2 separate regions of the Homo sapiens genome follow, and region 2 is linked to region 1. A link means that fine-mapping ties the variant in region 1 to the expression of a gene that starts in the linked region. Tissue or cell type: lung. Region 1 holds a variant in brackets; the other region holds the start of a gene. All regions are shown on one strand. Distances are between the middles of the regions.

Region 1 (16,248 bases):
TCCTTGTCGTCAACGCTGCAGCACATCCTGAAAGTATGTAGGTAACTAAACGCAGGCCTGTAGCTAACTGCATGCTGCCTGCCAATCTCACTCTTGGAGGAGTATTTGAGTGAAAAATTGCCATGGCTACCACACACATTTTATAATATTTTTATTCAAGTATAATTTACATGCAGAAATGCACAGATCTTAACTGTGTACAGCGTAACAAGTTTTGACAAATTAATAAATCCATTTATCCCATCTCAAGGTACCAAACATTTCTTTCACACGAAAAATTCCCTGTGGCCCTTGGATCAAATCAAACCTCCTTCCCTCTGCACACTGGCTTCTTCTCCCCCCTACAAACTGAGGCAACCATTGATCTGATTTTTATTACCATAGTTTATTTTGCCTGCTTTGAACTTCATATAAATGGAATCATAGTACATGTTCTGTTTTGCTTCTGGCTTCTCTTATGTAACATAATGTTTTTAATATGCATGCATGCAGCGTGATCAGTAGCTTAAAATTGTTTTTTATTCCATTATGTAACTATACCATCACCTGTTTATCCATGTTCCTTTTGTGGACATTTGGGTTGCTTCCAGTTGTTGACTATTATAAAGTTACCATGAACATTTATTTATTTATTATTTATTTATTTATTTATTTTTTGAGATGGAGTCTCGCTCTGTCACCAGGCTGGAGTGCAGTGGCACGATCTCAGCTCACTGCAACCTCCATCTCCCAGGTTCAAGCGATTTTCCTGCCTCAGCCTCCTGAGTAGCTGGGACTACAGGCGCGCGCCACCACACCCAGCTAATTTTTTGTATTTTTAGTAGAGACAGGGTTTCACCATGTTGGCCAGGATGGTCTCAATCTCTTGACCTCATGATCCGCCCGCCTCGGCCTCCCAAAGTGCTGGGATTACAGGTGTGAGCCACCTCGGCACAGCCCAGTTACCATGAACATTTTTTATCCTTCTTTTGTGTAGACATGTATTTTCATTAATCTTTGGTAAATACCTAGTTTGGAATTACTGAATCATATTGTAAGTGTATGTGAAATTTATGAGAAAATGACAAACAATTTTCCAAATCATTGTTCCAGGGGTTCCCAGCTCCCGGGCCACAGACTGGTACCCACTGGTACTGGCACTGGACTGTTAGGAACCCAGCCACATAGCCGGAGGTGAGTGGCAGGCAAGCCACCATTACCGCCTGAGCTCTTCCTCCTGTCAGATCAGCGGCAGCATTAGATTCTCATAGGGATGCAAATCCTATTGTGAACTGTGCATGCGAGGGATCTAGGTCTTGGGCTCCTAATGCCTGATGATCTGAGGTGGAACAGTTTCATCCCAAAACCATCTCCCCACATTCCCCTGCCCCGTCCATGGAAAAATTGTCATCCACGAAACCAGTTCCTGGTGCCAAAAAGGTTGGAGACGGCTGATTTGTACCATTTTCACACAAACAACAGGCTGTCAAACAGAGGTTGTGTTTTGGTTGGCATTTAATCTAATCTGTATACCAATTTGGGGTAAACCATTTTAACAACATTGAGTCTTACTGTCATGAACATCATACATCTGTCCACTTATTTAGGTCTTTTTAATTTTTCTCTCAGAAATGTTTTGTTAACAGTGTAGAGAACATGTAACCACTTGTTAAATACACTCCTATTTGTTTTATACTTTTATGCTATTGTAAATATTATTGTTTTTAAATTTTCATTGTTCAATTATTCGTTGCTATTACATAGAAATAGAGTTAACTTTTGCACATTGACCTTTTAGTCTGTGAACTTCCTAAAAGCAACGATTAGTTCTGGCTGTTTGTAGATTCCTTTGCATTTTGTATGTCCACCAACATGTTGTCTTCCAAAGATAAAAATTTATTCCTTTCCAAACTTTATGTATTTACATGTTATTTCTTTTCCTTACTTTATCTCCCTGGCTAGGACCTCTACTATCACGGAAGTGGTGACAGCAGACATTTTTGCCTTCTTTCTGATCTTTTAGGAGAAGCTCTTCAATATTTTAACGTTAAGTGTTTTCTTCATTATGGATCACATTTTCTTGCTTCATTAAATGCCTTATTTTAAGAATTCAATTCCCAACATTGAGTATAAGATATCAGTGGTGTTTTGTTTTATTTATTTCCCAAACAGTACAAGCTCTTTCCTTTTTTGGCTGTTGGAAGAAAGGCTGTTTATTCTGACTCTTTCTAGAGTTTGAGTTGAGCTTAGGCTGGTACACAGATTATGTTAGGTTGAGTTTACCTACCCTCAGAGTGGGAGCTAATATGGCTCTCTGCTTAGCCATAAAGAATTCATGTCAGCCTGGGGCAGTGCCATGTGCCTGTAGTCCCAGCTACTTGGAGACTGTGGCAGGGGGATTGCTTGAGCCCAGTAGTTTGAGGCTGCAGTGCCTTATGATAATCACACCTGTGAATAGGCAGTGCACTCCAGCCTGAACAACATAGCAAGACCATGTTGCTTAAAAAAGAAAAAAAAAATTATATCACCCTTATAGTCAGTCCATCAAGCTTTCCTTAAATTCATTACCCTCTGTTAATTCCATGGGAAAGTATAATTTTTGTTTTGTCTCAGAGATTCTTGTTAACACAAACATAAAGGTCTTTTGTAGTCTTTTATATCCTAACCCATTAACATTTCATTTTATTGTTTTTCTTGCATTTGTGGGTACCTGTTGTGTGTTTAAATCTTCATACTTGGGAGAGCTCAACTTGGTTCTAGTGGTAGTCTTTGTTTTCTCTTAATTTGTTTTCCTCATTGTCTATTGTTACCTGTGCTTCTTTCAATTTATTTCCATTTTTCTGATGATTTTGCTTTTGTCTTTTGCATCTTTCCTAAGATCCACTATCTCAGGTTTCACCTCCTCCTCCTTTCGTCTTGTTATATCTTTCCTGTGTTTTTATACTTGATCCATTTCTTTTTTATAGCCATCCTTTATAGAAATTATTACTTTACAAAAAAATTATGTTTATCACATTTTTTATCTTCTTTATGGCCACCTGTGTGTAGTCTGTTGGTAAATTTTGCTGCTCTCTTCCACATGTTTATCTTACAGTATCTATGTATTGAGGCCATGCCAGTATCTTTTATTACTAGTAATTCAATGAGTTAAATTTCCCAGAGCAGCTATTTGCAGGAAGATCTTGATTAGGAGGGAGAGGCCAAGAAAATCTTCCAAGCTTTATAACTCAAAGATTCCCTCTTCTACTTCTACAACTATAGCACACCATTGTTTGTGATGCTTTGTTTAGCCCCAAGTCAGGTTCAGCAGGGTTTCTGCTGCCAGTTTTGCTTACTTAATTTTGTACACCCTTGACAATAAGCAAATTAACTTTTTCTTTAGAAAAAGCAGTTTTGCTGCTTTTGAGATCCGCTATTATTGAACAGTCTTGCCACTTTTTTCATTCTCTATTATGCAAATTTTCAGGTCTCATCTGCTCTTGGTAGCTCATAGATGTCGTTAAATTTGCTTATTATATTGTTTGTAGGGGTTTTTTTAACGTCATTTTTCTCATTACTTTTGTATGACTTCCAGAAGGGGGAAAAAATCCCCACTTACACAGCTATGTTCATATCAAAAGTCACCTAAAGGTGTTTTGGCAGAAATCTAAATTCTAACTCATGTCTCATAAGACAGTGTTTTATCTAGTCTCTTGGATAACATGAAATACAATTGTAAATGCAGTAGTCAAGGATTGAAAATGCTAAGTTTGCTAATTTTTCTTATCAAAGAACATATACAGAATATTTCCCAGTAGCTCCTACTAAAAGAAATTCTATTCAACTGCAATTGTTAGAGCTATTCAGCTGATTATCAAAATACTTTAATTCATCATCTAAAAACTGATTGCATAATAAAAATAAACATCCTAAAACTCCAGAAATAGCCAGAGTGAACTGTAGAGTAGCCCCCAGCTTTTCTTAGTGCACTAAGCCATGCAAGTATACCCAGTAGAGTTACATAAGCTATGAGGGGGTTATAAGTGCAAGGATATATTTCACTGTGAAATTAGAGCAGGCATTGAAGTTGAAGGATGGCTCCTAGTGAGTTTTCTTTTGGGAACACTAAGTAATCATCAGTACAAAGGTCACAGAAGTATCTTATGAAGCCAACCAACCACCTATGGCTTTCTGTGGCTGTGGAACTGATCAAGTCCAGTGAAGACTGAGAGCATGGGGGCATGGACCAAAAAGAGAGAGAAAAACAAAGAAGAAACACACAGGGCAATAAATGTCATTTTTATATGGACATCATATTTTATAACATTATTTATTTTTAATATACCTTGAAAATGCAGAATGGTTAAGAATAATGAGGAATTTTGCCTTCAGCTTCTTCCTCTATTTTATCTGACTCCATATAGTGTATTGCTCCCCAACTTTTTCCCCTCACATGAAGAAAATGATAATTGTGTCTCTCTAAAGTAGACTGGAGAGGATTAGGGGTATCAGTGGGGGAAAAAAATGATTACCTTTCTTTAAATAATTATAAGAAAAACAAAATACAACTACTAGGGAAGATATTAAGTATAGAATTTGTATAAAATTTCAACATAAAATATTTTTGCAATTTTAATGAGACATTCGCGCTTGCTTTTCTGACCATAATATTTTAATAGTGGGTTTTGTGTGTGCAATGGGTATATACACTTCTTGGCTAAACTTAGGATTAAAAGAATAACAGGCAAAGTGTTTGTGACAGTGCCTACCAAATAGTAAATGCTGTTTAACTGCATATAAAATTTTTTGGAAAATTTTAGTCTTCTTTTAGAGTCATCCAAAGTTTACAGCTATTGAAAAGTCCTCCAGGTTCATCCATGTTATAGCAAATGACCGAATTTCCTTCTTTTTAAAGGCTTAATAGTATTCCATTGTGTATATGCACCACATTTTCTGTATCTATTCATCTGCTGAATGGTTGGTTTGTATTGTGGCTACTGTGAATGCTGCTGCAATAAACGTGGGAGTGCAAAGATCTCTTCAACATACTTACTTCATTTCCTTCGAATATATGCCCAGTAGTAAGATTGTTGAATCATATGGTAGTTCTATTTTTAATTTTTTGAGTAGTTTCTATACTATTTTCTATAATGTCTGTACTAATTTACATTCCCACCAACAATGTACAAGGATTTCCTTTTCTCCACATCCTTGGCAAGATTTGTTCTTTCATCTTTTTTAATAATAGCCATTCTAAGAGATGTGAGGTGATAGTCACTGTGGTTTTGATTTGCATTTCCCTAATGATTAGTGATGCTGAGCATTTTTTCATACACCTATTGGTTATTTATATGTCTTTCTTTGAGAAATGTCTATTCAGGTCCTTTGTCCATATTTTAATCAAGTTTTTTTCTTGCTATTAATTACTTTTGGATATTAACCCCTTATGATATGTATGGTTTGCAAATGTTTTCTCCCATTCCGTAGGTTGTGTCTTCATTCTATAGATGGTTTCCTTTGTTGTCATGGTAATCACCATGGGTTTTCTCATAGACTACTCCGCTATTACGTTTAAAATGCAAGTTCACCAGCCGGGCACGGTAGCTCACCCCTGTAATCCCAGCACTTTGGGAGGCTGAGGGTAGACTACTTCCCTATTACATTTAAAATGCAAGTTCACCAGCTGGGCACAGTAGCTCACACCTGCAATCCCAGCACTTTGGGAGGCTGAGGGGGGCGGATCAAGAAGTCAAGAGATCAAGACCATCCTGGCCAACATGGTAAAACCTCGTCTCTACTAAAGATACAAAAATTAGCTGGGCATGGTGGCACACACCTGTAGTCCCAGCTACTCGGGAGGCTGAGGCAGGAGAATTGCTTGAACCCGGGAGGCGGAGGTTGCAGTGAGCCGAGATTGTGCCACTGCACTCCAGCCTGGCAACAGAGTGAGACTCTGTCTCAAGAAAAAAAAAAAAAAAAAAAAAAAAAAAAAAAATATATATATATATATATATATATATATATATGCAAGTTCAATATATGTGTTCGTTTGTGTGCATCTGCGTGTGTGTGTGTTCCCCAAACCCCAAAGCAAAAACAGGGCAGCTTTTAAAAACGAATCTGTTTCAATAGAGCTGAAAGGATTATTAACAGATTTAGTAGTTTCCTCAAACCAAAGGATGTTTTATAATATTTATTCTTGCATTCTAAAAAATTTGATACATAACAATATAAAAGTCCTTAAAATTTATTGAAAGTGTAAGTAATATTTTTAGAACATATACTCATGTAACCAAATTCAGGCCAAAAGATAGTCTGAGAATGGAAATTTACATTCCAAACACACACTGAAATAGAGATGCAAAAATCCTAAACAAAATATTAACAAATAAT[G/A]TGATTGATCTCAGAAACAGTATTGAGTAAAACAAGGAAGACACAAACACAGATATGTACAATTCCATTCACATAAAATTCAAAATCAGACAAAACTGTGTATTTTTTAGGAATGAATACATGGGTGGTAAAGCTATCAAGAAAAGTAAGAAAAGTATTATAAAAGTTGAAATAAAGCTAACCTTGGAGTTGAGGACTTGTGATTAAAGAGGTGTTCATGAAGGATTTCTTGGTTGCAAAGCAGTCTTCTATCTTTTAGGTGTGGTCTCATAAAGTAAGAAACAGGTGGGGGGACTCTTCTTTATTTTTTCTAATCTCAGGAAAGTTTGTGTAGACTTGAATTATTATTTTTTTGAATGTCTAGTAGAACCAACCATTGAACACATCTGGCCCTGACCTTCCCTATATGGAAAAATTTTAAACTACTGGTTCATTTAATGATTACAGGATTATCATTATAGTATTCACATAACATAATACTGTCAAATTATATTTTTAAATGAATTTTCCATTTTATCTAAACTTTCAATAATATTGGCAGAAAATTGTTCATAATATTCTATTATCTTTTTAATTTTTACAGCACCTATAGTGATTTCCTTTCCAATTATGATATTGGTTAGTTGTAACTGCATTATTTCCATCAGTCTCACCACAAGTATGTCAGCTCTACTAGTATTTTCAACAAACCAACTTTTGGATTTGTAGATCGTCTCTTCTATTCTGGTTTTATTTCATTCATTTCTGTTTTAAGTTATCCTTTCCTTCTTTCTTTTGATGTTCTACTTGATGTCATTTTCCTAACTTCTTTAGATGGGTGCATAGCTACATAATGTACAGACTTCCTTCTTTTCTACCATAAGCATTTATGAATATAATCTCCCTCTACATGCTGCTTTAAGTGCATCCCACAAGTTTTGATGTGTAGTATGGTTTAATATCATTGACTTAAAAATATTTTCTAATTTCATTTTGTCTTACTTGACATATAGATTACTTAGAAGTGTATCTCTTCATCTGTAATCCCAGCATTTTGGGAGGCTGAGGCTGGCAGATCATTTGAGGTCAGGAGTTTGAGACCAGCATGGCCAACATGGTGAAATCCCATCTCTAATAAAAATACAAAAATTAGCTGGGTATGGTGGCACACGCCTGTAATCCTAGCTCCTTGGGAGGCTGATACAGGAGAATCACTTGAACCCAAGAGGCAGAGGTTGCAGTGAGCCAAGATCGTGCCACTGCACGGGTGATAGAGTGAGACTCCATCACAAAAAACAAAAAATAAATAAGTGCATCTCTTAATTTCTGATATATAGAGATTTTCCTGTTATCTTTTTGTTGTTCATTTCTAGCCTAATTGTGTTGTGGCAAAAGAATATACTCATATGGTTTCAGTCATTTGAAATTTTATTGCATATGCTTATAGTCCAGTGCATAGTCAATTTCTATAAATGTCCCATGGATGCTTTAAAAGAATAGAGGTTCTGTGGCTGCTGAGTATATTGGTCATTCAGTATACTGTTAAAGCTGCCTTTAAGGTTTTTCTTTTTATTATTGATGTTTTGCATATTCACTATGATGTATCTCAATGTAGTTTTTTAATTTACACTGCTTGGGATTCACTGAACTTCTTAAATCTGTACTTTACTGTCTTATTAGTTCCAGATAATTCTCCATGTTTTCTCTTTCTCTAGTTTCCTAACTGCATTCTATATGTGTCCTCATCTATAAAATGAAAATAATAACAGTACTTATCCCACATGTAAGTACTTGTTGATAAAATATAAAATGCTTAGTACACAGTACTCAATGATTGATAGCTATTGTCATTACAACACTTAAAGTGAATTTTCCCCAACTTTCCTTAATGTCATAAAGTTTTAGAAATATGCAGATAAATTCAGAGATAAGCAGATATTAAATAATCACTAGCTAGGCAAAGTGGAAAACTGAAGCACTTTCCATTAGAAATCAGTAGAGCAAGTGGTTATCATCATGCCCTTAAAACCAAAAAGGGCCAGGTTAGACTCTCTTTACAATCTAGAGGAAGCTACTTAACTTCTTCAAGCCCTGGAATCCTCATTTGTTAAATGAGACTAGTTATCATACCTGACAGCTTGTTCTAAATTTTAAATCAAATTCTACAATGCATTTAATATTTCAATAAAAGGCAAAGATGAAAGTATTACAAAAGAAAAAGCATTATAAAGATACCCAATTTTAATACTCTAAACTTTCTATGAGGGGAAATAACTATTTCAGAACTTTCTTGAGATGTGTATTCAGCAAATAAATTTGCTAAGGTATATTTGCAGTATTCACTCAGCATTTTTAACCCTGTTATATGTCAGGCACTGATAGGTGCCAGAGGTATAAAGATCAATGCTCTTGAATAATTCACAGTAGATGATCCAGATATTTAATCAAATAAGTACAATACAATGTGAGCCATGAGATGGTAGAGAACTATACAAAAGGCTATGAGAACACAGATTTCACATAAAAGACATTTAATATAAGCAGAGATGTTCCAGCCAATGGGAATGGGAGGTTGAGGTGTATAACATGGGAACATTTGCTATTAGGCTGAGCATCTCTAATCTGAAAATTCAAAATCCAAAATCCAAAACTTTTTGAGTACTGACATGATGCCACAAATGGAAAATTCCACACCTGACTTCATGTGATAGGTCACAGTCAAAATGTAGGTGCACAACATATAGTCTATTCAGTGTTCCCAAGGGAAAAATAAATTACCTTCAGGTTATGTGTATAAGGTATATATGAAACATAAATGAATTTTGTTTAGACTTGGGTCCCAACTCTAAGAGTATCTCATTATACATGTACAAATATTCCAAAATCCAAACATATCTGAAATCTGAAACTTTTAGTCCCAAACATTTTAGATAAGGGATATTCAACCTGTATTTGTGAAACAGCTGTAACAAAGGGTATGTACTATGGAGTAGTGACAGAAGCCACTTGAAGATTTGGGGCCATACTTGCAGGTGTAAATGTGTTATGTTGAGGGGTTTGGACTGTTACTGCATAGATACTGGAAAGCTTCTGAAATGTTCTATGGCCCCAAAACAATGACATTTCTACTTTTTGGAGAACAATTGACATAGTAAACAAGATGGACTGACTAGAGTGAAAAACGAAGGCCACCCAGTTAGAACATTATTATAATCATCAAAATAAAGAAGACATAAAAAATAGTCATCAAATGTTTTCAATGCATTGGGATAATGCTCTTCCAACTTAGAATAACTGCTTCCCAGATTTGCTATTGCCTCCTAAATGTGAAAATTATATTATTATTTACATAGAATAAAAATGTATTCGATTCCTTTGCGATATTTTATAGAAAAATAAATTAGTTTCCTTTTGAAAATCATATGCAAAAAATTCATTTTATTATAACCTATCATTCATTTTATTATAATGGAATTATAAAGGTTATAGAAAAAATATCCATCTTCCCTTTTTAGAAAAGAACACTAGTCCTTTATGTTCCCCTGCCACAGGGGAGGCATTGGAAACAATGATCAGCTCAGATTAAAACCCTATTGTACTGAAAAACTCAGAATCCTGACTTAACTAGTCTAAGGAAATGCCAGTAAGGCTTATTAGAAAAGGGAGGCTTGGTATAAAAGCATAAAGAATTGAGTTCAACCCCCTCCACTCTTCACCCTATCCTGCTGCCCAAACACCCTTAGTTAAGGAGTGACCAGCTCTTTGATCTCTTCTCTTTTAAAATAACCAAATAGCTCTTGTTTTGACTCCATGGCTAAACTCCATCCTTGCAACAGGAGTTTTATTTCTACATTGGTAGTTGAGTTTCTAACAAAAAAGACAATTTAATATATCTTATATTTTGTAATATGTTCTAAAGACTAAATTTAAATAATTTCATGGCTATTCTGACTTCTTTCCATAGTAAAATTTTTCTTTTGTAAGAGATGGCCTATGTACACAGGCAGAGTAAATTAACTCCTGCCTCAAAGTTGCTGAGAAAATGAATTGCTTAAGAAGATTAGAGTCATTTTCTTTACTTAGAGGTATTCTTGACAACCCACACTGAAATTACACAAGATTAACTCCATTAACACCATTTCCCATTCTTTAAACTAGTAGCTTTTTAGAAAGCAGCATTTAGACTGAATAGTTCAAAGCATATTTTAAGAGGAGATCTCAAGATGCTTAGAAATGCTAAATAAGTATCATTTAAGGATTTAGAATGGAGTGCTGAGAGGTCAAGTAACATATTATTGGTCATACAGTGAGCTGTAAGTGAAATGAAAAGATGCTGCTTGTTTTTCTCTTTACCATTTAGTCTGCATATTCCACTTGCAAGTGGCATTTCAAATCAAATGAAAACAAGGGATATTAACACTGTTAATCCCTCAAAGAAAGGGATATTATTTATTTTTGTCTTTCCCATAGCATTTTGTAGAGTACCTTTCACTTATTCAAATATTTGTTGGTTATTATGCCATATATTTGACATTATTTTGTGGCCTATTAAATATACATAAATCAGAGGGCTTAGAAAAACAGATTAAAACAGTACTATAAGAGAATCTTTCTGAAACTAGAAAGCAAAATCTATTAACACAGGCCCTAAACTTTAAACTAGTTATCCTAGCTGCCATTGGTGCCATTAAAATCTCTCTCTCTCAAAATGTTGTCATGAGCCACCAAAACCATTCTGAACAAATGCAATCATAACCCATTAATTCCCTTAAATTTCCCTCTTTGATCTTTATGCAATCTTCAGTGTTTTTAACCGCAAAATAATACACAAATATACTCATGTTTGAAATTCAAACATCAAAAGTAAATGGAGGAAAAAAGTCCCATTTTCCTACCTCCCCATATCTTCCTCCAACCTCTTTTCCTACCCTTACATTAATGTAAAAGACTTTGCATTAAATTATATAGAGTTTCATTTTCTTTTTGTTCTCTTAAAGATTACTCCCAGGTAGAAAACGTTAAGGAACATTGACCTAGACAGCTCTTAAAGATCCTAATTTGAATGAACTACTGAATCCCCAGATTTAGAAATAGTTGTTTCTACTACTACAAAAAAAAAAACCTCTAAAAATATGAATTGTAATTACTTTATGCTAAAACTAAGTCAGATCAGACCTCAATGGAAAGTCATTAACCATTTTATTATAAAAATTTTATCAGGGAGCATAGTAAAGTAATACTAACTGTAATAATACTAGCTGAAATTTACTGAGAATTTGCTAGGCACCAGACATTGTTCTTAGTGTTTCATAAGACTTGCTAAAATCAACTATCAGTAAAATTTTAAGATATAGCATGTGGTCATCAATGCCTCTGCTCATAATGTCTCAAATTTGTATATATTTCATAATTTTGTTTGATGCAATACTATCCTGGACTGAAAAATGATAACTAACAGTACTTCAAGTCCAAGAATTCTACAACAGAATCAGTGGGTTACTAAAGTCGCATATTAAAGCAGTGGTAGAGCCCATCTCTGATTTCAGGGATTCTCAACTGTACCAGTATATTTCCCATACTCTAATCCTTCATGTATTGGTATCATAATTACTGCTATGTCTATACTATTATTTATTTAATACCTTTAAATTGATTCTACCTCTTTAAAATTAAATTTAGTTTTAAAGGAAACATAATACCATCACATAAACAGGAAGCCAGAATTGATTACCATAAATAAAAGGGAAGATAAATTCAATAAAACAATGCAATCCTATTACATTCTAGCTACATATTATATTGTTGACTGCTGATGTTTCTGAGCCTGAGGCCTGCATAGTTGGCTAAAAAGGTAAATCAGCCAATGTTGATATATGTAAATAGTATCAATCAGCTTTCTCCTTCCTTAAACAGAATGATTGATGTGAGGACTGAAAGTATATTGAAAAAGAACAAGTTTCTCACTATGCTTTTTCAATGATATTTGTGCCAGGTACCATCTAAAACACCTCCTATGATCTATAATGATTTTACATATTATTATGATACAAATCCCAAAATACTTTGGGAAAACTCCAAAATGATTTGGGGATTTCCTGAAGGGATCCCCTTTACTTTATATTTTGGTCTCAGAATCAAAAGGTATCTTGTCTCTCCCAAGACATGCCCCAATATGCCTATTAAATCAATGGCAAGTTATATCAAGTTGGTAGAAATGGAAGTTATATTTTAATTTTTAGTTTAGTTTTTTTTTTTTTTTGAGGTGGAGCCTCGCTCTGTCACCTAGGCTGGGCAATCTCGGCTCACTGCAACCTCCACCTCCCGGGTTCAAGCGATTCTCCAGCCTCAGCCTCCCAAGTAGCCCAGCTAATTTTTTTATTTTTAGTAGAGACAGGGTTTCAGCATCTTGGCCAGGCTGGTCTTGAACTCCTGACCTCGTGATCCACTCGTCTTGGCCTCCCCAAAGTGTTGGGATTACAGGCGTGAGCCACCGTGCCTGGCCTAAATGGAAGTTAATATCCAAAAACTTGTTCTCAGAAGGCAAATGTTAGGTAGATGAAAACAGTACTGATTTAAGAAGCATAATCAAGCTCAACCACACGCTATTTTGTTTGACCTTGATTAGGTTAGTAAACTACTCAGGTATGTTTCCAATCTGCAAATAAGGGAAGATAATACCTCCACACAGGGTGGGAATATGGATTAAAGTGTGAGATACTGACATAATAGATACTCAGAAAATGTTAGTTAAATCAAAAGTTACATGACTTTCAGTTTTTTACAGCTCACAAAAAAAAAATCAAGGTGTTTTAATTTTAATATTAGTAAAAGACCTCAATTTGTTTCACCTAACCGACTCCCAGGCACTACTGCTAGCTCAGCGTCAAACAACCTTGGCAATTAAAACTAATTCAAATATAGCAATGAGGGAGGCATCACACAACCTGACATCAAACTAAACTACAAGGCTATAGTAACCAAAACAGCATGGTACTGGTACAAAAACAGACACATAGACCAATGGAACAGGTTAGAGAACCCAGAAATAAAGGCCACACACCTACAGCTACTTGATTTTTGTTAAAGTCAACAATAACAAGCAACAGGGAAAGGACTCCCTATTTAATAAATGGTGCTGGGATAACTGGTTAGCCACATCCTGAGGATTGAAACTGGACCCCTTCTTTTTACCATATACAAAAATCAACTCAAGATGGGTTAACAATGTAAATGTAAAACCTAAAACTATAAAAACCCTAGAAGAAAACCTAGGAAATATCATTCTGGACAAAAGACCTAACAAAGATATCATGACAGACTCCAAAAGCAACTGGAACAAAGCCAATAATTGACAAGTGAAGGCTGGGCATGGTGGCTCATGCCTGTAATCCTAGCACTTTCTGAGGCCGAGGTGGGTAGATCACTTGAGGTCAAGAGTTTGAGACCAGCCTGGCCAACATGGTGAAACCCCGTCTCTAATAAAAATACAAAAATTAGCCAGGTGTGGTGGTGGCCACTTGTAATCCCAGCTACTTGAGAGGCTGGGGCAGGAGAATGGCTTGAACCCAGGAGGAGGAGGTTGCAGTGAGCCGAGATTGCACCACTGCACTCCAGCCTGGGTGACAGAAGGAAACTCCATCTAAAAAAAAAAAAAAATTGACAAGTGGGACCTAATTAAACTAAATAGCTTCTGCACAGCCAAAGAAACTATCAACAGAGTAAACTGACAATCTACAGAATGGGAGAGAATATTTTCAAAGTATGCATGAACAAAGGTCTGATATCCAGAATCTATGAAGAACTTAACAAGCAAAAAATTATCCCATTAAAAACGGAAGAAAGGACATGAACAGACACTTCTCAAAAGAAGACATCCATGGGCCAAAAGCATATGAAAAAATGCTGAACATCACTAATCATTAGGGAAATGCAAATCAAAACCACAACGAGATACCATCTCACACCAGTCAGAATGGCTGTTATTAAAAAGTCAAAAAATAACAGATGTTGGGGAGGCTGCAGAGAAAAGGGAATGCTATACACTGCTGATGGGAATATAAATTAGTTCAGCCTCTGTGGAAAGCAGTTTGAAGATTTCTCAAAGAACTTAAAGCAGACATACCATTTGACCCAGCAATCCCATTATTGGTTATATACCCAAAGGAATATAAATTGTTCTACCATAAAGACCATGCACGCCTATGTTCATTACAGCACTATTGACAATAGCAAAGACATGGAACCAACCTAGATGCCCATTACAGTGGACTGGATAAAGAAAATGTAGTACATGTATACCAGATAATACTACACAGTCATAAAAAAGAACAAAATAATGTCTTTCCAGCAACATGGATGTAGCTGGAGGCCATTATTGTAAGCAAATTAATGCAGGAACAGAAAACCAAATACCAAATGTTCTTACTCATAAGTGGGAGCTGAACTTTGAGTACACTTGGACTCTAAGAAGGGAACAATAGGCACCATGGCCTACTTGAGGGTGGAGGGTGGGAGAAAGATGAGGATAGAAAAACAACCTATCAGGTACTATGCTCATTATCTGGGTGATTAAATAATTTGTATGCAGAACTCCCACAAAATGCAATTTACCCATGTAACAAACCTGCACATGTACCCCTAAACCTAAAATAAAAGTTGGAAGAAAAAATAAAAATAAAGCAAAACTTTGGAAATGGGGCTATAGAAGGTCAGCAAAGGGTAGGTTTGAGATGTTTGGGTAGGTTAAGTGGGCATTTTGATGACACAGCTTCTCCTTCGGCATGTTTAATTGGCATGTGATGTTTAAAGGACATCCTTGCAGTTTAAGATGACACTTTAAAAATAAATTAACTCCTAATAATGAGGTGAAGAAAAAAAAAAAACTAATCCAAAGATCATGCTTATGAAGGTCTGAAATGCCCCAGCAAAACTGCAAAAACCTAAGTGACTAGTCATCAGTTGGTCCAAAGCATACTATTAATAATAAAAGTCCTTAAACAAAAAAAGTTTAACATGGCATCTTATTGGCATATAAAATAATATTCCACATGAATGATATCTCAATACATTTTATGGTGATGAAATAAACTTAGTGTTCCTTTATACACTGCTGAAGTATTTACTAAATAAATCAATAAATGTCTAAAATTATAGTGCCATCTGCAGGCAAAAAAAGTAAAATCAATGATATATTTTCATGCTTTCGTATTTTCTGATTGCTATTCAAAACTTTTAAAAACTAGGATTTAATAATGTATATAACTCATTTTATGATTACATTTATAGGATACGATTTATCATATAAAATAAAACATTTTTTCTAAATTTTTTTTACTACCTAATAGAGGATCACTTCATTCTCAATATAACATTAAAATGATGGCAGTAATCCAAAGAAAATCAATGGTACTACAATATCCAATTTTGTGTATTGAGAATTATTTATTGCCAAAACATATAACAAAAAAAACTTTTTAGTATTAAAAAAAATCCAAATACCCCATCATCTTAACAGGAAGGGATTTTCATTTATTTGCTTTTCTCTTCCAAACTTGCATCTGCAGACACTTACTTAACAATAACTAAGTGCCAGGCACTTTTTAAAGTTGCTTTACATATATTAACTTAGAAAATTCTCACAGTAATCCTATGAGGTAGGCAATGTTAACATGCCCATTTTACAGATGTTGAAACTGAAGCCCATGAGTTTAAATAACTTTCCCAAGGCTGCAGTGCTATACGTGGCAGTGCCAGGGTTCAAACTGGGTTAGTTTGTCTCCAATATCTGTGCTTTTAATCACTATGCTAACATGTCTCTTATTTGTGAAAGATGAATTCAGAGTATTATTGCAGTTGTAACATATGTGTTCTACTTTTAGGGGGCAACATTTTCTCATGAAACTAAATTGTTCATTGCTT
Region 2 (16,248 bases), 39 kb after region 1:
ATAGTATTCCATGGTGTGTATGTGCCACATTTTCTTAATCCAGTCTATCGTTGTTGGACATTTGGGTTGGTTCCAAGTCTTTGCTATTCTGAGTAGTGCTGCAATAAACATACGTGTGCATGTGTCTTTATAGCAGCATGATTTATAATCCTTTGGGTATATACCCAGTAATGGTATGGCTGGGTCAAATGGTATTTCTAGTTCTAGATCCCTGAGGAATTGCCACACTGTCTTCCACAATGGTTGAACTAGTTTACAGTCCCACCAACAGTGTAAAAGTGTTCCTATTTCTCCACATCCTCTCTAGCACCTGTCACCTGTTTCCTGACTTTTTAATGATCGCCATTCTAACTGGTGTGAGATGATATCTCATTGTGGTTTTGATTTGCATTTCTCTGATGGCCAGTGATGATGAGCATTTTTTCATGTGTCTGTTGGCTGCATAAATGTCTGCTTTTGAGAAGTGTCTGTTCATATCCTTTGCCCACTTTTTGATGGGGTTGTTTTTTTCTTGTAAATTTGTTTGAGTTCTTTGTAGATTCTGGATATTAGCCCTTTGTCAGATGAGTAGATTGCAAAAATTTTCTTCCATTCTGTAGGTTGCCTGTTCACTCTGATGGGCTGCAGTTATTTAAAAGCCTGAAAGAAACTGGAGGATCCATTCCCAAAGGGGCTCATTTACGTGGCTGGAAGGTTGGTACTGGCTGTTGGCATGAAGCTCTAGTTCCTGTCCAAAGGGCTGTTTTGAGTATCCTCACAGCATAGCAGCTGGCTTTCCCCAGAGTGAGCAATCCAAGAACATGACAAGAAGTGTAATACTTTTATGACCTAGCCTCAGAAGTCACCTCACATCCACATTCTCCCTCAAATTCTTTCCAAGTTCCAAGGCTGAATGCTTACAAAGTAAATATCACGTGTGCTTTACTGACCATTATATCCCATCCACTGGCAGACAAATGGGTAAGCAAAATGTGGCATACACCTACCATGGGGTATTATTCAGCCTTAAAAGGGAAGGAAATTCTAACACATGCTACAACATAGATGAATCTCGACAACATACTAAGTGAAATAAGCCCATTACAAAAAGACAAATACTGTATGATTCCACTTATATGAGACACCTAGAGTTGTCTAATCCATAGAGACAGAATGAAAAATGGTGGTTCCCATTTTTCAGAACTGGAGAGGAGGAAGAATTGTTTAATAAATATGGAGTTTTAGTTTGGGATGGTGAAAAAATTCTGGAGATGAATGGTGGTGAGGGATGTACAACCATGTGACTGTCCTCAATGCCACTGATACTTAAAAATGGTTAAGATGGTACATTTTATGTTATGTATATTTTAATGTAATTTAAAATTAAAAATAAAAGGTTTTTTGAACCATCATTCCTCCTTTTAACATATGCCTCCAACTATTCACAACTTTAGAAAAGTGAATTTAAACTAATATATAAAGTTCTATAATTTTTTTACTCATTAACCCAAATTAATATTGTTAGAATTTCAAGTAGTATAAGATAAATAAGAATTCCTAGAGCTGCTTAAATCACTCACCAGCAATTCCTCTTTCTACAAGTAAAGCTAGTATTGTTTTTCCTTCAAAATGGATATATCTGTTAACACTTACTATATGCCTAATATTAAGTAACTATTACATAGTAAACAATTTCATTATTTCATTTAATCCTTCGAATATCATTGTGAGTCAGGCTTTCCTATTACCCTATTTTTCAAGTACAACCAAAAGTTATGAATTATTAAGTAACTTGCCCAAGGTATTATTCTTCCCATTTTTACATTTGTGAAATCAAATCTTAAACATGTTAAAAATTTCATAAGTCTTTTTGTGAACTAAAAGTCATAATATCAAATCAAACCCACATAGTTCCAAGGTCCAAACTCTTTTCATTTGCACCTGTAGTCCCTACATGGCACCATCCTATTTCTGTGTCACTGTGCAAATTTAGGTTCCTGGTTTTATCTTAAAATATCTTGCTAAATAAATTTATTAAATATGATCATCTGAAACAGTTCCCATCCTTCAAGTAGAATTGAGGCCAATTAAACCTAGTCAGCTGGACTTTTACAGTGAGAGTTCATCAGTTCCAGCCACCATGGGAATTAAACACAGACCCTAAAACAGTGATTCTCAAAACATAGCAGACCAGGAAAAAACACTGCCTGGAAATCTGTGAAAGCCCCAGAATCAGAAACTGAGAATGGAGCTCTGAAATCTGTTTTAACAAGAACTTTTGATGATTATATGCATGCTAAAGTTTCAGAACATCTTGTCTAAAGACCAGCAGGACCAAGTTTTCAGGTTCCCTACCTTGGGTAGGGAAATATAATTTGTTTTGGATTACAGAGTATCTCTTCACTTTCCCAAGCACAGTAAATATATTCTTCTAGTCTCTAAAAACTTAATTTTAATTGAGATGACTTCCAAAATATGAAATCAAGATTTACCTTCAATAAAACTTATTAAACACGAACCAACTGCTTCAACTTTATACATTTGTGAATAGGCTAATATAAATGCCTAGGTTATCAGTAAGGCTAATTTTTAAATTCAGTGTAATTTAAAAGGTTTTATCATCTTCTAGTAAGTAACAGAATAAATAAGAATTCCTAGAGTTGCTTAAATTGCTTATCAGCAATTCCTCTCCCTAAAGGTAAATCATATATTCTTTCCAATCTCTCTAGCCAAGTCTGTTCAATTCATTTTCACAATTTTAAATTTAGCTAAGCTTATCCAAGAAAATGGATGATGATTTATTAAATTACCTGTATATATAACTTTTCCTTCTTGGCATTCAGAAAGAGGCCTTTTCCCACGTTTGTGTGCTTTTTCCCGAAATCTTACTGTTACCACCACATTCGGATTACCAGCACTGCAATTCATTTTAGAAAAAGATTTGGTTTCCACAAGGTTTCCAAACTTTTTGTTGACAAAATGGTGGACAGCTTTTCTGTGGTCTTTGTTTGTATCAGGTTTAAAGGTAAATTTGGAATTTTCTTTCTTTGCATCCAAATATTTAAAAAAGTCAAATGCTTCCTCTTCAGATACCAAATGACAAAGTTCTTTATATTCAAGATTTGGTTTTACAACAATTTCACTGTTTTTTCCTACAGTTACTAAAAATGGAAATTTCTGCCTAATGGCACTGTGTAAACTAGCCCTCTGGTTTTTGTCAAGGATTCTGCCTATTGAGAATTCAGGAGGTAGTCCAATTAGCTCTGTTTTAGAAAGCCACTTCTCTCTTACATCACAGGCAAAATTATTCAGTAACTCATGAGTTTTTTCATCCAAAAAGGAGCTTAAAACATCAGCTTTTTCTTCACATTTGGAAGTTCCATCAACGATAGTATCTTCCTTTTCTGAACCAGACTGATGATTTTGGTCACCATCAGTGTACTTAATCAAAGTATGAACTTCTTGGTTTCTTCCATCTTCTAAGGACAGATTTTGAAGATCTAGTTTTGGTTTTTTGGGAAAATTATTTGGCTCAAGTTGTATTTCACTAATCTTGAAAATAGGCTCATCGATGGTCTTATTAACTAACTGTCCCTGTTCATCAATTTCAATAACAATAAAGTCACTTGGTGAGCTTTTTATAGTGCCATGAAATCCAACGTGATCATTAAAGAAACACAAAGAACTAAACCTGATTCTATAATCTGTATCTTCTTCCATTCTTCTATAACAGTGCCTAGAAAACAAAACAAAGAGGTGGTTAGTTAACAGAAAGAGAAGTTATGGATGACCAAATAGGAATAGGTTTGCAGGATTTAGTTAATTCTGTCTCTCTTTTAATTCTGAGTCTTCTTAAATGGTATCATTAACTTAATTTATAACTATATGTACTTCCTGTGTACTTTGACTCTCCTATACCAAGCTGAATTAATAGGCAAACTATTTCTGGTATAGCTAAAGATTTGTTAACTTGTATCTTCACTCACTCCAGATTTGTACCTATTATCCAGGATTAAAATGAGTCAATTTTATCTTAAAAATATCATTTGTAGGCTCACAAGAAGAGGTGAGAACACAGGACTATAAAACAAAGATTTGTCCAAATTCCATTCCTGGAGCCTAAAATTTCCAGCTAATTCCAGAGAACATGTGGCTAAGTTTTCTTATATTATTAGTGGTTAGTGACAGGAGAGGTGACAAAAAGACAATAGGAAAACTGATGGGTAAATGAAGTTCTAAATACAAATTTGTGATTTGATTATATTTCAAGGTAGGATTAAGTCAGTCCTGGGCCTTCTCTAATGCCCCCATTAGGACAAATAGAAGCTTTCAAGGTTGAGCCAGAGGAAAGTTCTAACTATATCATTGGCATCAGACAGAAGAAACCCTTACAGAGCTTCCTGGAAACACTATGCAAGAGAATAGTACTCTGATCTCTCACTTTTCACACAAACCCATGGCTACCATACCATATGGAGCTGCAGGAAAGATAAATTGCCCAGGGGCCCCATACTAGTGAGTTCTGTGTTTCCCCCACATTCTCCAAGTAACTTATCATCATCTGGACCATCATCTCATACCTATAATGTATTCTACTAATCTGAACCAATTTAGCAAATCACACCTTCTCAATCCTTTCCATCATGCCATATAGAAATCACTACAAATTCTCCATATCCTAATTTCCTAAGGAATATATAAGATATACTTACTTTCCTTAATTACTTAATTTCCTGTACAGTTCCCTCACTTTCTTGCCCTAATTGAAATCTGGCTATTTCTTCAGGCTGCTTCTTCTTCAGTCCTCTCAAGTAAAGGCTATTTTTTCTTTCCCACCCATCTACCTTAGGACCTGGAGGCTGTAAATATTGGTCTATGTTTGTCACTGTTCGTTGCAAGCCATTTCTTCCTCTACTACCTCCAAAAACCCCAATTCTTTTGAAGAGCCTGCCATTGGGCTTTACCATCTGCTGTCATCCTCTCTCGGATCCCCAGACAACTCTGCTTCATTCACTGATCTCTGGCTCACTACCTTCTTATCCAACATGATTTTTATGATCATCTATATGGATCATCCATTCAATGTCTTGGACCCTCAAGTCCTCAATCTCAACCTCAACCTCACACCTCTACTTCATCTTGGTCATCCACTGTCACGGTCATAACTTTGACTTTCTCATCTCCAAAAACTGCATTAACCTTAAGCATCTGATTCTTATGACTCCCAATGTCCTTTATCACACCAACTTTAATACTTCCATTCCAAAAACTTTTAGATATTGTGAAGGTCCCTAACTCCTGCTTCTATAACTAGCCCACAAACCAGCCAGAATGGTCTTAAAAGGTAAATTAAATCATATCACAATCCAGTTTAAAACCCTCTAGTCACATTTGCAATAAAATCCAAATTACTCACCCTGGCTTCCAAGGACATCTAAGATTAGGGACCCTGCTTATTCTCCAAACTCATTTGTACCTTTACCCCATTACCCACTATACTCCAGCTACTCTGGCCTTCTTCAATAGTTTTGTGCTAACTGTTCCTGTTGTTTAAATTGTTCCCTCCCCAATCATATAGCTGCATCTTTTAGGATTCATTTCCTCAGAGAAGTTTTTCCTGACCAATAATCTACAGGAACCTGCAAGTGATTCTCTTTTTTTTTGAGACGAAGTCTCACTCTGTCGTCCAGGCTGGAGTGCAGTGGCATGATCTCGGCTCACTGCAACCTCCGCCTCCCGAGTTCGAGCGATTCTCCTACTTCAGCCTCCCGAGTAGCTGGGACCACAGGGGCGCGCCACCACGCCCGGCTAATTCTTGTATTTTTTTAGTAGAGATGGGGTTTCACCATATTGGCCAGGGTGGTCTTGAACTCCTGACCTCGTGATCCACCCGCCTCGGCCTCCCAAAGTGCTGGGGTTACAGGCGTGAGCCACCGTGCCCAGCAAGTGATTCTCTTTCACAAAACCCTATTTAATTTTCTGCATAGCAGTTCTAGGTAAAGTTTTTCTTTATTATTTATTGTATATCTCCTCCAAAGAGAATGTTAGTTCCACGTGAGGAGTAACCTTGTCTGCCTTATTTACTACTGATGATCACACATTTTGAACAGTGTCAAGCACATGGTAGGTCTGCAATAAATACTATTGTTAAATAAATGAAATAACTAGTACAAAATAAGAGCTGTAGGAATGAAGTGGAAGATAATTAGAAGAGGCATAATGCAAGAAGTGGCCATCTAAGTCCTCCATAGTTCAAGAGATAGAAATGAGGCAGAGACCTCACAAGTAATGTACAAACAAAACATGCAATGTGTGCAAGAAAAACAAGCAGTCCAGATACAGAGCAGTGGGGATGGGAATGCAGGGAGACTACAGTGCTGGAAAATGTAGCTGAGTTAGTACCAGATTATGGAAGATGTTGAATGCCCTGACAAGGACTTAGAATCTATTGGGTGGTCAATGGATGGCTACTGTTAGTGTTTGAGTAGAAAAGTGACACAATTCCAAAACATGCTTTTGGAATTGTAAGATGATTCTGATGGAAATGAGCAAGATGTATCCGATGGAGTAACAGTTAGAGGAGTTCAAAAACAAAACAGCATGGTCAAGAACATAGCTGTAGGGATTGGCCCTGAAAGAATAATGATCTTTTCTTTCTCCCAGAAAAAAGGAGGAAGACAGACATTCTAAGCAAGTGAAACAGGTAGGGAAACTTGGGGAGAATGTAATTCCAGCATCCTGGTAGAAGAGTGGAACTGACCTGGAGGACAGCAAAGGAGCCCACGTGGCGTTAAGCCTGAAGGTGCAGTATTCCCATTCAACAGAGACTGCTGCTGACAGTGGGCGGGGGAGTAGTTTGCTTGGCCCGTGGTTGAGGAATTCGTTGGCGGAGGAGGGATCCTGAGAAGGTACTAGAAATACTGAACCCAGTCCTGCAGAAGCTACTTAACTTCACAGAAAACTAGGGCGTCGTTGCCCTCCAGCACGTCCAAAGGTGTCCCCGACAAGGCCAGCAGCTCTACCTGTTTCTTCTCCCTCCTCTTACTCTGCCTGTCCAAAGGCACGACACTAGTCCACGTCACCTTTCTTTGGGCGCAAAGGGTATGGATCCTCAATGCCAACCTCGTCACCCCCCCCCCCCACACACACACACACACACACACATACAAGCCCACCATCGCGCAAGAAACTCGACCCCGTCTACCTCGGTTCAGTGGAAGGCATTCATTTGCACAACGCTGTGCGCATGCCCGGAAGCCTTAAGTGTTTCAGCCTCCGACAGGGGCGTAATTAAAGGGGCAGGCGCCCACGTAAAGACGCGCCCTACGCAATACGTGGAGTTTCTCACTTTGTGGAGCCGCCTGGAGGCGCCAAGATGAAGCCCATCGGGGAAGTGGGGCGGGGCCAACCCGGCAGGCCCCGCCCCTTCGCGGCGCTTCCTAGTTCGGCTGGTTCTTCTGTCGCCGGCTTCAGCAGCCCGCGCCCGGGCAGGTAAGGCATTCCCCGCCTTAATGCCTCGGTCAAACGTCGTCCGAGGTCCGCTTCCAGGCCTCGGCACCTCTGCCCCAGGGTTGCTGGGGTCGGCTGCGGAACGGAAATCTCTTTATCATCCGTGAGAAAAGTTAGAGAGGAAGTGGGTTCCTTTGACAGAGCTTACTCCAGAAGAAAGACTTGGGTAGGTCCCCGGTAATCAAGAAGTTCGTCGGCCCTGAGGAAGAGCCTGAGGCTTGGAGGGACGTCACCCAGCTGTTCTGGGGCGCAGTCGGACCTCAAGTTTCTCACCTCTCAGGCCCTGGATTCCGTGAACCCGACTGCGAAATGAAGTCTCTTTTCCCCAGAACCAGGAAGTCAGGCCAGCACCTGACAGATGCCTGTGGCGCCAGCAGCTCGCTGAGCCTCCACACGATTGTAATTCGCTTGTTTCTCCGGCCTCCAAGCTTCCAGGGAATTAGAAAGTGGAGGCGGCTTATGGGATCAGATGAGTACATTCGCAGATGGGGGAAAAAAGTGTACCTGTCAGCTTGGAAGCCAGAGGGAGACAAAGGGATAAAAGCAAACCCTGTCCAGGTGCGGTGGCTCATGCTTGTAATCCCAGCACTTTGGGAGGCCCAGGCGGGCGGATCGCTTGAGGTCAGGAGTTCGAGACCAGCCTGGCCAACATGGTGAAACCCCTGTCTCTACTAAGATACAAAATTTAGCTGGCATAGTGGCGGGCGCCCGTAATGCCAGCTACTCCGGGGGCTGAGGCAGGAGAATCGCTTGAACCCAGGAGGCAGAGGTTGCAGTGAGCCGAGATCGTGCCACTACACTCCAGCCTGGGCAACAGAGGGAGACTCCGTCTCAAAAGAAAAAAAAAAAAAAAAAAGCAAACCCTGAGAAAGCGAGAAAGCACTTTGAGCATTTAGAATGGGAACAAACGGCGCTATTAGTGCTTCAAAAACGTAACTGCCCAAGGCCCCTGGTAAGCAGAGGATACTAAAATCTGCCTTTTCCCTTTCTTGGAGTGGTCCTTGAAGAGGGCTATCGGGAAGTTCAAATTTCTTCTGTTTTCCTGCAGAGCGTTCATTTGAAGTTTGCTTTCTACCTCTCCAAACTGAGCTTCTGATATTCCAGGCCAAACTTGCTCCTTCCTCAGCCTTCTCTATCTCAGTAAATATCGGTAAACTTGGTTATGCTGTCTTCTCACTCTCCACATCAGCCCATAGCTTTCTATTGGCTCCACCTCAGAATCCTAGGACTTCTGCACTTGCTCTGCTACGACCCTGGTCCCAGCCTGCAGCACGTCCCACCTGGCTTATTGGTAGGCTCTCCTAAATGCTTCTTTCTTGCTTCTCTGTCCTTACTCCAACATCCTTTATTCCCAGCAGCCCCAGTATCCTTCTAAGACATGAGTACAGAGCATGTCTCTTTTCTCAAAACTTCCAGCATCTACATCTCACCCAGAGGATAAACAAAGTCAATACAAAAACTCTAAGGCCCTTGAAGACCTGGCCCCTTTACCTTTCTGACCTCATCTGCTACTTGCCTGTTCCCTCCTCTGCAGTCTCACCATGTCCTTGCTGTTGCCCAGTGGGCCCAGTTCCAACCTTTGCATTTACATTTCGTTTTGTCCACAAACTTTTCCCACAGATAGTCCAGTGGCTGGCTTTCTCCTTCTTTTTGACCTTTAATCAAATGGCACCTTCTTATTGAGGCTTCCTGTGACTACCATATTTATAATTACAACCTTTTCTCTATTTCGTTTTGTTCTTTCATTTCACTTGGCACCATCTAACATACTATAGAGTTTATTTATTTGCTTATTGCCTTCCTTCCTCCATTAGAATATAAACTCCATGAATTCAGGTTTTGGTTTTGTTTTGTTTTTTTTCTCTAATTTTCCTAATGCTTCATCTCCAGGGGCCTGGAGCAGTATCTAGCACAAAGTAGACACTCAGTAAATATTTGGTGAGTCAATGGTATTATATTTTGTTTTTTAAATATATGCAAAGCATTTTCAATTACTTACTGTTGTGTTGGATCAATGTTCAAGAAAGATATGTTAAGTTTAATTTATGGTACACCAGCACATATCCCAGTTTGTAATAGGCAGCCCTATCTAATTTAATAGCTCTGGAAGCCCTCACCAGCTTTTGTTCATAATGATGATGTTAAAGTATCTAAAAATAAAGATTAATGGTTATACAGCATATTTTGCTAAGAATATATGGAAGTAAATAGTGTATTTTAGAAAGGATATAAATACATTAAAATTACCATGGTTGATCAAATAAGACAGCCACCATCTCAAAAGCTTAGCTATTTTCTCAGACTTGTTATTTGTACGCTTTCAGTAGATCCTCACTACTGTTCTGGAAATTGAACCTAAATACAGTCTGCACATATCTTTAAAAATAATGTGATATAAGAATAATTTCTGCCAGGAAATAATAATTGCTCCTTTTTTTTTTTGACCACCTATTATTATGTGACAAGATTTGGCCCTTTGCATGTGTTGATTTTAATTCTTACAGCAATTCTTAGGTATTACTATCTCTGTTTTTCAGATAAAGAAAAGCAAGGTGCAGAGAAATGTATTTACTAGCTCTGGTCACAGTTGGCTTTGGTTAGAACTTAGGCCTGTGCAACCTCAAAGTTCATCTTCCCTCCACCCCTGCACAATCTTTTCCTCTGATCAAAGTGCTAATGAAGCAGTCTTAAAACTTTATTAACACATTTGACAAGAATCTTTTGCCCTCCTGTTTTGGGCACAGTACTTTGGGAAGGCATTGGATTCCATAAGCAGGTGCTTATTTTAATATATTTCTCAATCACCACCCCACCTTTTACACTTGTCTGAATTGTCTTACTTGAAAATATGAATGGGTTTTCTTTACTATGAGAGTTAGTGGTATGAGGAAACAGTCATGAAGGTATTTACTTATTTGTAAGCAACATATCCTGTTCCACCTGTGTTAATCCTAAGTGTACTAAAGTAAATCTTGAAGAATTTGAAAGAGATGACACTTTTTAAGTTTTTTTTTGCCCAGTCTGTTTTCATTATTGAAAATTCAGAAAAGCAAAATGAAAACAAAACTATCATAAAAGTCATCACCAAGGGATAACCACGTTAATATTTTGGCTTATGTTCTTGTAAGTATGTGGTTGGGAGTGGTATATGAATATACATTTAAAGTAAAATTTTAATTTCTGGGATTTTGAACTTCTGGGCACATGTGTGGAGGAGTTGCAGAAGGCCTTCTTTTTCCTAGTATCCCTACACTTATCACCTCTGCTGGAAGCCTGGGTGCAGGAGAGCTACCAAATTTATCCCTGGCCTTTAGATAGTCTGGGTTTTTTCCTCAATTCCTTGTATTTTGCTCTAATTTATAAGACTACTAAGCAGTTCTATCTTGTCTAGCTTTGTCAATCATGTTGTACCTTACAGTAGAGAGAAATCTTAGTAAGGAAAAATAACTTGAAGAGAGCAACTGCAGAGTCTATAGGCAACCTAGATACAATTTCTTAATTAAAGTTAAAAAGTCATCAGCCTTTCATTCAACACAAATGTTGTGAGTCGTTGCTGAGGTGAATTTGGTTGGGTCCTAGCTCAGGAGAGCACCCATCTAACAGAGAAAGCAAACACATAAACAGTAAAACATAATAATTATTATAACAGAAGAATGACTAGGTGACATTTTGGAGCAAAAGAGATGACAATCAGGGGAAGCTAACAGTGCCTTTTGAATTGGGCTTGAAGGAATAATAGGCATTTACCAGGTGGCCTTTAAGGTATGTGGGCTATTCTTTTACCTGGCCCTAGATGACTTCATTTCCTGTTTCACAGAAAAAATAACAGTATGTGGGAACTCTTCTCCCTTCAAATATATCTGTATTTAAACCTCTGCTTCCTTCTTTCTAGATTCAAAAGAGGTTTCTCTCTATTCAAGGCTGATTTCTTCACCCTATATGCTATTCATTATCCCATTTGTATTGCCAAACAGCTTAAGTCTTAAACCCTTAACACCAACAGTTCTCAAAAGTCTGGTTGGAGTCCCTAATGCTCTTTCAGGAGATTTGTAAGGTCAAAATCATGTTTAGTTAAAAGATTCATTCAGAGTGCAATGGATTTTAATGTTCCAAGTTAATTTATACAGCTTCAGATTCCTCATTGCAGCTTACCTTTAGGAAGTTATTTCTTGTCAAATTTTAGTGTAGTATCAAAGAGAAATATCTACTACTTTGTGAAAAGGCTATTAAAATACACCTTTCTTTATAACTATATGTCTGTGTGAAGCTGGATTTTCTTCATATACATCAACCAAAACAACATGCTGCAGTGGGTTGAGTGCAGAAGCAGATACAAGAATTCAGCTCTCTTCTATTAAGTTAAATATTGAAGAGATTAGCAAAACTTTAAAACAATGTTGTTCTTCTGTTTTTGAGGAAAAGGTAATTATTTTATTAAAATATATATGCTAACATCTATATTTATGATTATTTTAAATGAATTAATAAGTAATTTTTAAGTTTCTCAGCATCAATTTATTATGGTAAATATTGGTAGATATAACCAACATAAACAAAAGCCCTTTGGGGTCTACAATAGTTTTTAAGAGGGTAAAAGGTCCTGAGACCAAATTTGAAAACTGCTACTCTCTTGCATGCTCTCCTCCCTCTCTTTCCCTACCCCTCCACCCCCATTTTCCCTCCCCTCATACTCCTCTCTCTCTCTTTCTCCTTCCCTTCATAACCAGACTTCTTGGAAAATCTGTTTTTGCCATTCACTCACTTTTTCACTATAGCTGTTCCCAAGTCACCAATGGCCTTCTGATTTCAGAGTCTAACATATCCATCAGTGTCTATTTGACCTCTCTGAGTCTTTTATACCAACCTGCCACCTTTTCTAGAAGTCTCTGGTATGCTACCATCCTGGTTTTTTTCTTGCCTTCATGACTAAGCAGTATTTTTTAAAATTCTTCTTTCACATCATTCCTTTCCATTCTAAGCATTCCTAATAGGCAACCTCATTTTATTGTTGCTTCAACTGTATATGTGTATATGCTCTTAATTTGTATGAGGGCATTTCAAAAAGTTTGTGGAAAAATTGAATTAAAAGATAAAAAATGTAAACTTTGGCTCAGCACTATGGCTCATACCTGTAATCCCAGCACTTTGGGAGGCCGAGGTGGGCAGATCACCTGAGGTCAGGAGTTCAAGACCAGCCTGGTCAACATGGCGAAACCCCATCTCTACCAAAAATACAAGAATTAGCTGGGTGTGGTGGTGCACACCTGTAATCCCAGCTACTTGGGAGGCTGAGGCAGGAGAATCGCTTAAACCTGGGAGGCAGAGGTTGCAGTAAGCCAAAATTGCACCACTGCACTACAGCCTGGATGATAGAGCAAGACTCCAAAAACAAAAACAAAACTGTAAACTTTATTTCTGAACATAAGCCCATGAAGTTCAAGACACTTTTGTAAGCGATAACACCAGCCATTTGGGCCATCCCTAAAGAACTGAGAGTCCTGGGAATTTAACCACATCAATGAAGTCTTTTTTACATTATTAACTGAAGAAAAATGGGTGCTCTATGAAGATTTTTCAAGATTGGGAAACAAAAAGAAGTCAGAAGGAGACAAATCAGGACTGTAAGGTGGATGCCTAATGATTTCCAGTTGAAACTCACAGAATTGCCCTTGTTTGATGAGAGAAAAGAGCAGGGGCATTGTGATGGAGAAGGACTCTGTGGTGAAGCTTTCCCAGGTGTTTTTCTGCTAAACATTTGACTAAAGCTGTAACAGAAAAGCTTTAGTTTAGAAACACTTAGAAAAGCTACTGTTTCTCAAAACCCTCTCTAATAAGCAGATGTTACCATTCTTTTTCCCTCCAGAAAGTCAGCAAGCAAAATACCTTGAGCATCCCAAAAACCTGCAGCCATGCCCTTGCTTTTGACTGTCTGCTTTTGCTTTAATTGGACCACTGCCACTTTGGGGGAGCCATTGCTTTGATTGTGCTTTAGGATCATACTCGTAAAGTCATGTTTCATCTCCTGTTACAATTTTTTGAGGAAATGGTTTAGGATCTTCATCCCACTTGTTTAAAGTTTCCATTGAAAGCTCTGCTCGCATCTGCAGCTGATCTGGGTACAACAGTTTGGGCAGCCATCAAGTGGAAAGTTTGCTCAACTTTAATTTTCAGTCAGAATTGTATAGGCTGAACTAGTTGTCTATGGTGTTCACTGTTGGTTCTGCTGTTAATTATAGGTACTCTTCATTTAGGGCACAAACGAGATGAATGTTTTCCTCGAAAATCGATGTGGATGGTCTGCCGCAGCAGGCTTCATCTTCAACATCATCTCATCCCTTAAAATGAGTTACTGATTTGTACACTGCTGATTTTCTGGGGGCATTGTCCCCATAAATAAAGCATCAGTGATTTCACCATTCTTCCAACCAACCTCCACCATAAATGTGGTGTTTGTTCTTGCTTTAGTTTTAGCAGAATTCATGTTGCTGTGGTAGAGGTTCTTTTCAAACTGTCTTATTCTTCTCAGTGTCTCAACTAGATCCTGTTTAGACATGAATGATAAGTTAGTATGAGTTTATTTTGGAAATACATTTTGCAAAAAAAAAAAAATTGAAATCCATGCATGGTTTTTGCACGATATGCATTTTCCATGAACTCTTTGAAAACCCCTTATATATGAGAATACTTACATAATGAGCATTCTTTGCTGAAACCTCTCTCCTAAGCTCCAGACCACATATATAAGTACTTGGTATGAAGGCTCCTAGATAGTGCCAAAGGTAGATATTTCACATTTAACATGAGCCAAAAAAAAAAAAAAAACTTCATTCTATCTCCCTTTCTTCTAATCGCTCATCTCTAGTGAAATTGTTTTGATTTGGCCTCCTAAATGTTTTGACGTTTTACCTCTCCATTCCCCTACCCTATACTTTTTCCAAGCTCTCCTTTCTGCTCACCTGGATTATTGCAGAAGTTTTCAAACTAATTTTCTTGCCTCAATATACATCCCTTTGATTTTTATCCAGAGGAATCCACTTAACCATATAAGATTATTTAACATCCCTCCTAAAAATCCTAAAGTGGCTCTCCTGTAACTTTTAGTTTATAAGTTCAAACTCTTTGTCTTAGCACATGAGGTACATGATGATCTGGCCCTGCTACCTTTCCACCCTCATCTCTTCTCACTTAATCACAGGCATCCTGTGGTCCAGCCATAGCAAGCTCTTTGCCTGAGACACACATGCTCTTACCTTTTCCCATGCTATTCCCTCTGCCTGGAATTTTCTTTTGGGCTTATCCTCATTCCCTTTCATTCATCCTTCCAACCTCCTACTCCAACCAAATCTGTCTTGATATCCCTATTCCAGACTGCCTCTGCTTGATGCCCCTTTTCTGGGCCCCATAACATTCTTGCAGCATTTATCACTCCCTGTCACTGTTTGTATCCCCTGGTATACTGAACAGCTTGGAAACAAAGATTTTCTCTTCTCTGTGCTCCCACTTGTTAGTACAAAGACTGACATAAATATTTTCTGAATGTATTCATGAATGAAAGGAAAGGAATGGTCTTTCTGAAATAGAGAATGGCATGAACAATGCATTGTGTTATAAAAGCAGAGTTGTATGGCATGACTTTTGGAGTCAGACATAATTGTAAGTCCTGGATCTCTCACTTACCACCTTTGTAAAATAGAGATGATAAAACTGTACTGGGAAATAATTTAGTTGTTCCAAAAGTAAATACTGAACAATACCATTATCTACAGTATGCAAGTCACTAGGTGTATATTCATGAATAAAATTAGCATGGTCCTGAACTCATGGATCTTAAAATCGAATATGGGAGACAGTAAACAGGTAAACAAATAAGTATATGATTACAAATACATTGTGCAGTGATGAAAGATAATTAGGTGAAGGGCAGCTAGACCTATTTAGATGTGGTCAAAGAAGTCCAAAGAGAAGAAGTGAATACTAACATAGAAGCCTCTGATACAGAGAAGCTTTTCGCTTTTTACTCTTTTTGATAGTTTTAGAATGTTGTTCCATATGAACACATTATTTACTCTAAAATTGTATTTTTAAAATATATATAGGGAAGCAAAAATAATTGACAGAAGAATATCTGAGTCTATTTGTCTTAATTGGAAGGAAAGATCATTTCCTATTGAGAATGAGGGACACGCAGAACAAATAAAATCCACATAGAAAGAAGTAAAGGTATGAAATAGTCACTAAGGACTATGAGAGAAGACAAGTGGAAGGATTAACGGCAGTGTTGAAGGCCCTGTGGAAAGGGGGTTACCATAAATTTGTATTCACATCAGCAACCCTGGTGTACAAGTAAAGTTGTTAGATTTATCCCTGGCTGCAGCTCTCCAGGATGGAGTAGCAGAAGTAAAGGGGGATTGCAGAAATAAAGATTCTGTCTAGAGAGTAGTTGAAGTGGTGAAGCACAGGTTTTGGCGTAGTAGCAAATGAATTGTGGTCAGGCAGATCTCATGGACTCAAAAAATGTGCAGAGGTCAAGGAAGAGCAAAGTATGTGAAAAGTGGGTGGGTGGACCATATCTGTTAATGCTACACAAATCATTTCAGTACGTTTTTTTTTTTTACTTCTACCAAAGAATGTTGCATAAATTTTAATTGTAAATAAGTACTAATTGAGAAACATAAATTGAAAGGTAAATGTTTTTATTAATAGATTTGATTTCTGAATATGCTAATTCTGATAGTTTGTTGATATTACTCTTAAGAATTT

Evidence for each region. PIP is the estimated chance that this variant, and not a neighbour inherited with it, causes the effect.
Region 2: it holds the start of PUS7L, and the variant in region 1 is fine-mapped to the expression of PUS7L in lung (TOPMed, PIP above 0.99). The same link has a PIP of 0.9 or more in whole blood.

The regions. Positions count from the first base shown.
Region 1 is chr12:43,712,856-43,729,103 of GRCh38, forward strand. PUS7L (pseudouridine synthase 7 like) reads right to left here. Exons shown (of 9, transcript NM_031292.5): 9 at 6,137-16,248. Among named protein-coding and RNA genes, the nearest start is that of PUS7L, 38 kb to the right of the region's middle. The variant G/A (reference allele first, on the strand shown) is at 6,352.
Region 2 is chr12:43,751,547-43,767,794 of GRCh38, forward strand. It overlaps PUS7L (pseudouridine synthase 7 like), which reads right to left and starts at 7,244. Exons shown (of 9, transcript NM_031292.5): 1 at 7,184-7,244; 2 at 2,790-3,715. The coding sequence starts at 3,699. IRAK4 (interleukin 1 receptor associated kinase 4) reads left to right here and starts at 7,405. Exons shown (of 12, transcript NM_016123.4): 1 at 7,405-7,470. RefSeq lists enhancers at 6,932-6,981, 7,322-7,431, 8,052-8,111.